Homo sapiens: one gene and its partner. The protein of the gene in region 1 interacts with the protein of each later gene in a pairwise test. Each region holds a gene or a part of one and is shown in the gene's direction. Other genes may lie near its edges.

What was found.
Region 2: the proteins of ARHGAP9 (region 1) and ABI3 interact in binary tests that used the Homo sapiens proteins (3 or more experiments, as listed by UniProt).

The regions. Positions count from the first base shown.
Region 1 is NC_000012.12:57,471,557-57,474,525, reverse strand, and holds the end of ARHGAP9 (rho GTPase-activating protein 9), read left to right. Parts: intron 1-49; coding exon 50-103; intron 104-349; coding exon 350-484; intron 485-817; coding exon 818-923; intron 924-1,837; coding exon 1,838-2,009; 3' UTR 2,010-2,257; downstream 2,258-2,969. Other genes in the region: zinc finger protein GLI1, read right to left, coding at 2,465-2,969. UniProt on the Homo sapiens protein: GTPase activator for the Rho-type GTPases by converting them to an inactive GDP-bound state. Has a substantial GAP activity toward CDC42 and RAC1 and less toward RHOA. Has a role in regulating adhesion of hematopoietic cells to the extracellular matrix.
Region 2 is NC_000017.11:49,217,207-49,220,706, forward strand, and holds part of ABI3 (ABI gene family member 3), read left to right. Parts: intron 1-532; coding exon 533-709; intron 710-2,333; coding exon 2,334-2,419; intron 2,420-2,651; coding exon 2,652-2,747; intron 2,748-2,962; coding exon 2,963-3,120; intron 3,121-3,500. UniProt on the Homo sapiens protein: May inhibit tumor metastasis. In vitro, reduces cell motility.

The DNA.
Region 1 (2,969 bases):
GCTGGAAGTGTATGTCTTAGCTCCTGATCTCTCCTCATTCATGTTGCAGAGCGTGCGGTCACCTCCGATGGGAGGTATGTGTTCCCAGAACAGCCAGGACAAGGTACTTACATGGAAGACCCTTCAGATCCCTAAAACTTCCACATATCCTCTTTGCTTCCCGTGGAAACCCCCATGTACTATTCCTGGGAGGGTTGTCCTCATCCCCACCTTAGCTACCTTGCCCCACTGCAGACCCTCTAGGCATTCCTATAGTCTGCTTTGACTGGATTTCTCCAGAACTTCTAATCTCTCAGTCTCTAAATCTTTCTGGCCCTTCATGAGCCCCTATACCTCCTTCTCCCTCCAGAAGGTCGGTTAGATTTGGACAGTACTGAGTGGGATGACATTCATGTGGTCACCGGAGCCCTGAAGCTTTTTCTCCGGGAGCTGCCCCAGCCTCTGGTGCCACCACTGCTGCTGCCCCATTTCCGTGCTGCCCTTGGTAAGGGTTGGAGCTTTGGAAAGAACCCTTGATGTGGGGGACACGGGTGGTAAATAATAGAATAGAGGTTCCCTTATACTCTTCTTTCCCATTCTGACTTTAGAGATGGAAAATAATGTTCAACTCAGGTGCCTACTCCAGTTGCTTTTTTGTGAATGTTTAGAGGGCTGAATTGAAAAGAATTATGAGGCTATAGTTGGGCTATGTGAAAAAGAAAGCTGTGCTAGATTAATGATGTCTTCCATGCCTGTGGGAAAGAGCAGTGCATTTACCCATCCTGTCCTAGCACCTTCCCTAACCTTACTACCATGCCTTTCCCATCACTCTCTCTAGCACTCTCCGAATCAGAGCAGTGCCTCTCTCAGATACAAGAATTAATAGGCTCAATGCCAAAGCCCAACCATGACACTCTACGGTACCTCCTGGAGCATTTATGCAGGTCAGGAAGACAGAACCTCTTTGTTCATGCTGGGGAAAGGTGGAGTGGGGAATGCCACAGGGACTCTGTGCAGGTGGAGTGAAGGTAGGGAAGCACCTAAGTTTAATGGGCAGGTGAGGAAGCAGGCAACCTCTGTGCAGGAGCATATTACCAGAGTCAAAACCTTTATTTTTTTATTTTATTTATTTTTGAGACAGAGTCTCGCTCTGTCACCCAGACTGGAGTGCAGTGGCGCAATTTCAGCTCACTGCAACCTCTGCCTCCCGGGTTCAAGTAATTCTCCTGCCTCAGCCTCCTGAGTAACTGGGATTACAGGTGCCCGCCACCACGCCTGGCTAATTTTTGTATTTTTAGTAGAGACGGGGTTTCACCATGTTGGCCAGGCTGGTCTCGAACTCCTGACCTCAGGTGATTTACCCACCTCAGCCTCCCAAAGTGCTGGGATTACACCGTGCCCGTCAAAGACTTTAGGTCAAAACCTAAAGGTCAGCATCAAGTGGGGAAATGGAACCAAGATGCTGTGAAAGGAATAAGGGAAATCTTACTTCTCCCTTCCCTCTGCCTCTTTGTCTCCCATTGGGACATTGCTGATGGCTTCTTTGGTTGAACTGGGCCTGGGCAGTGACTTCTGAGAGAGGATGGCCACTTGAATTAAAGACTCCCAAACTGTGAGCAGGCAGAACTCTTGGGGCAGCCCCTGAAGTCGGAAGAGGCAGTTATATCTTCAGGTTGTATCCTGAAGGTTTCTCCACTGGTCCATCTCCATTCTCCTTGTATCTCCTTGGTTTTTTTGTTACCATGTGGAGGAATCCCAGAGTGAACTCTTCCCTGCTCAGAACTTTGAAGGGTTAGTTAGATTGCTATGAAGTGGCAAGCTGCTGCCATATATCCCCTTCCTTGGCCTTTGCTTACAGGGTGATAGCACACTCAGATAAGAATCGCATGACACCCCACAACCTGGGAATTGTGTTTGGACCAACCCTGTTTCGGCCAGAGCAGGAGACATCTGACCCAGCAGCCCATGCTCTCTACCCAGGGCAGCTGGTCCAGCTGATGCTCACCAACTTCACCAGCCTCTTCCCCTGATGCAGGGAAGGAAGAAGAGAAAACATATTTCCGGTCATCTCTGGTGGTGAGAGGCTGGTGTTCTGTTTTGAGGATATCCCTTTAAATCTCCCAAATGACTGTCTCTATCTTCATGAGTGTGACTTGAGGTGTTGGGATGGGTGAGGGAGCTTCTCTAAAGAGGAAAGTGAGTGGATTAACCCCTGCTTCTCTTCTTGTTCCCTGTTATCATTCCTCCCCAACATAATAATACATAAAGTGGCATGGTATTTTTTCTGATGCAGTTCCTTTATTATCAGGAAACAGTGTCATTATCAAATTTCTCCTCAAAACGTATACAGACTATACATAGCCCCCAGCCCATACCTCCCATCCCTGGGGCATCTTGTGCATGGGACTGCAGCTCCCCCAATTTTTCTGGAAGGATAGAAACCCCTTAGGAAATGCGATCTGTGATGGATGAGATTCCCTACTCTTTAGGCACTAGAGTTGAGGAATTCTGTTTCCCCAGGTAGGGATCTCAGTAAGACACTCATGTTGCCCACAGCCATGTTGGGGGGCCCAGAGGGAGGTGGGGTATGTCCAGAGCTGCCCCGCTGATCATGGGAAGGAGGAGGACTCAGCCCCTGGGGCTCATCCAGAATAGCCACAAAGTCCAGCTGAGTGTTGTCAAGATCAAGAGAGTCCAGGGGGTTACATACCTGTCCTTCGGGAGGAGGGTACAAGGCAGGACCCCCTCCTAGCCTGCCCACCTCAGGATGACCACAGCTGGGGTTTGTGCCTCCCACTTTGAGAGGCCCATAGCAAGTGGGCAATGGGGGCAGAAGTCGAGGTGGTGCTGCTGCCCTATGTGAAGCCCTATTTGCCCCCACTACAAAATTTTCATGGCATGGTGAAGGGGTGGGATAGGAACCTGACTTGTGATTGGGCAAGTTGGGTCCAAAGCCAGGTCCATATGTGTTCACTGGAGCTTTAGCACGG
Region 2 (3,500 bases), on another chromosome or scaffold:
ACATTTGGCCTGGCCTGTACATCACCCACATGTTCAGTGGGTGGGGTGTGTCTTTTCCTCCCCCGCCGCAGACCAGAGTTCCCACCCTTTCGAACTGTAGGCTTTCTCCATGGAACATTCTGAGAGGAAGTCAATTTACTTATTTGTCCCCCAAAGGGGAGAGCTGATCCAGCCACCATTCTCTGCCACCTCCATATTCTCCCCCTCTGCTCCGAAGTCAGCCGGGTGCTTGTCTCCTCCCAGCATCCCTAGGGATGTTGTGTTTTCTCTTTTCCTCCTGTTCCTGCACAGCTAATAATAACCCATACTCTCTTTCCACCAGGAAGTTGCTCCAAAGTGGCTCCATCCTTTCCTGCTACTTTTCCCAATTGCTATGTAGCCTGGTGGGGGGCGGGGGGCGGGGGGCAGGGCCCTCTTTTTCTAGACCTGGCTGCCTCCCCCCCCCAGCCCAGTCTTTATCTTCTTCCTCCTTAGGGGGAAGGGTGCTGGACACAGACCACCCCTCTCTGTCACCTTGAACCCTGTCATGCAGATGGTGAACATGCATATGGAGAAGGTGGCCCGAAGGGAGATCGGCACCTTAGCCACTGTCCAGCGGCTGCCCCCCGGCCAGAAGGTCATCGCCCCAGAGAACCTACCCCCTCTCACGCCCTACTGCAGGAGACCCCTCAACTTTGGCTGCCTGGACGACATTGGCCATGGGATCAAGGTAGAGAGAGGGGCCCTCCTCTTTCCCTCCAACCCACCCTCTCGTGCCTTGTGGCCCCTTTCCCTCCAGAACCCCAGTTCTGCAAGTTTTGTCCCCACTTGCCACTCCTTTCTTTCCCCGCTCCCTGAAACCACCACTCTGAGCTCTTCTCCCTCTCCCTAGATTTTGTAATCCCTCCCTCCAAAACTGGTCTGTACCATCCTCGGAGGATCTGCTGAGTGTGAGATCCTGAGCACCCCTCGCCCCCCCGCCCTGCCCCTGTGGGCACCGGGCGTGTGGGAAGGGGAAGAGGGGGAAGGGAGGATGTCAGGGTGTGCATGAGAATGGCTCCCAGCCACATGAGAACAGCAACTTCCTCTGTCTGGGGGTTTGAGGTCACTGCACTGAGCAGTCACCCCAGAGCTGCTGTTGGTGAGAAGAAGCGGGGATACAGCCACACAAAGGGGACTTGGTGAAGGGAGGGGAGCATGGCGCTGGCGTCTTCTCAGCCTATGTCCTTCTGCGAGGTCAGAAAGGGCACGCACTCACACCCGTCCCACCTTCAATTCCTGTCTCCACACCTTAACATTTCTGTATCAAAATGAGCCCCTTGATATCCTTAACTTATCAGCCCCCCTTAAAGGGGAAACGACATTCTCCCCTTCAACCACCAGGCCTCCTTCCCACCAGTAGTTCTCTGTTGTCCAACTTATATTTTTTTTTTTTGAGATGGAGTTTCGCTCTTGTTGTCCAGGTTGGAGTGCAATGGCACGATCTTGGCTCACTGCAACTTCCGCCTCCCAGGTTCAAGTGATTCTCCTGCCTCAGCCTCCCAAGTAGCTGGGATTACAGGCGCCCGCCACCATGCCCGGCTAATTTTTTTTTTTTTTTTTTGTATTTTTAGTAGAGATAGGGTTTCTCCATGGTGGCCAGGCTGGTCTTGAACTCCTGAACTCAGGTGATCCTCTTGCCTGAGCCACCCAAAGTTCTGGGATTACAGGTGTGAGCCACCACTCGCGGCCCAACTTATATTCTTTGTGCTTCAGCTCAAATCTCTTTTGTCTTGCCCCTGGTGAAGCCCATGGGGTAACACTGTACCCACCCCTTGGGGAAGTCCCATTGGTAACAGCAGTTCCCTCTTTCATGTAGGCGTGCACCCTGTCATTTGCGCATCCCCTCTAAGTGGCCTGGGTCTTGCTCCTCTCTGCCCTAACTCCCCAAAGCCAGTTCCACAAATCTTCGAAAATGAAAGGTGGGACACTTCTAAGTGTGATGTGTCCTCTCCTTTCTCCGCCCCCTCCTCAGCCCGATCAAAGTTAGGGACCACCAAGCCAGGGCCCCAGCTTCCTGGGCTCTGAGATGGTCTGGGGGAGGGACAGGGGTGCTGGGCCCACTCAACCCGCTGTGGCTGTGCAGAGGAAGTGGCTGTGGGCTTTGGTAGAACTGAGTCCCAGAACCCAGGCAATGACAAGGGGGTGGGGTGGGGGAAGTGTAGGAGAGGGGCCTGAGAAGTGGAAGTGGGAACTGGCTATGCCGGGCTCTCCCTCCCGGTTCCCGTCCGCCCCTCCTCCATTTCCTCTTGGGGATGAGGGTGGAGGGAGGCCCCTCACCCCAAATGTAAGCCCTACCTCCCGCTCCCTCGCAGGACCTCAGCACGCAGCTGTCAAGAACAGGCACCCTGTCTCGAAAGAGCATCAAGGCCCCTGCCACACCCGCCTCCGCCACCTTGGGGTGAGGCCTCGCCGCGACGCCAACTAGCCTAGCCCTGCCCCGCGCGACCCTGAAACTCTCCTCCCCCAGCCTCGCCACCCACCCCTGGCGCCCCCGGGTGCTCAGGCCGTCATGCTGGATGCCTGGCGCCAAACCTCCCCCTCGGCCACCTGCCCTTCCTGCTCGCACCCGACCCCTGCTGGCCAGAAGCCTTCCTCCTTCCTCCTAATACCCACTCCCTGCCCCCCGCCAGGAGACCACCCCGGATTCCCGAGCCAGTGCACCTGCCGGTGGTGCCCGACGGCAGACTCTCCGCCGCCTCCTCTGCGTTTTCCCTGGCCTCGGCCGGGTGAGACCTACAAGCCCACGTGGGTGGGTGGGGGGTGGGAAGTGGCTTTTGAGAGGGGCCACCTGCCAGTGGTCATAGTGACTCCTGGGCTTGAAAGGACCCAGTTACTCCTGGGTCACACGTGCAGGGCTGGGGTCAGGATTGGAGGGGTGGGGCCAGTTGGGGATGCTGCATTAGGGAAGGCGTGTCCGCCAACCGGGCTCTCTGGTGTTCAGCAGCGCCGAAGGTGTCGGTGGGGCCCCCACGCCCAAGGGGCAGGCAGCACCTCCAGCCCCACCTCTCCCCAGCTCCTTGGACCCACCTCCTCCACCAGCAGCCGTCGAGGTGTTCCAGCGGCCTCCCACGCTGGAGGAGTTGTCCCCACCCCCACCGGGTAAGGAGGTCCACCCTCTTCTTCCCAACCGTGGGGTCGCTTTTCTGCCTCCTGCCACTCCCCAGCCCACCTCTCTTGGATCTGCCCCGGCCAGCCTCAGTGAATGCCTCCTCCAAGGAGCGCAGCACAGGGGCGAAAGGAGACAGAGGAAGTGAACTAACATAACTTAGCGCCTGCTGTATACCAGACCCTGTGTTCGAAGATTCTCATCCATTTTCTCATTTGAACTTAATCCTGGCCGGGCGCGGTGGCTCACCCCTGTAATCCCAGCAGTTTGGGTGGCCGAGGCGCGCGGATCACCTGAGGTCGGGAGTTCGAGACCAGCCTGACCAAAATGGAGAAATCCGGTCTCTACTAAAAATACAAAATTGACCGGGCGT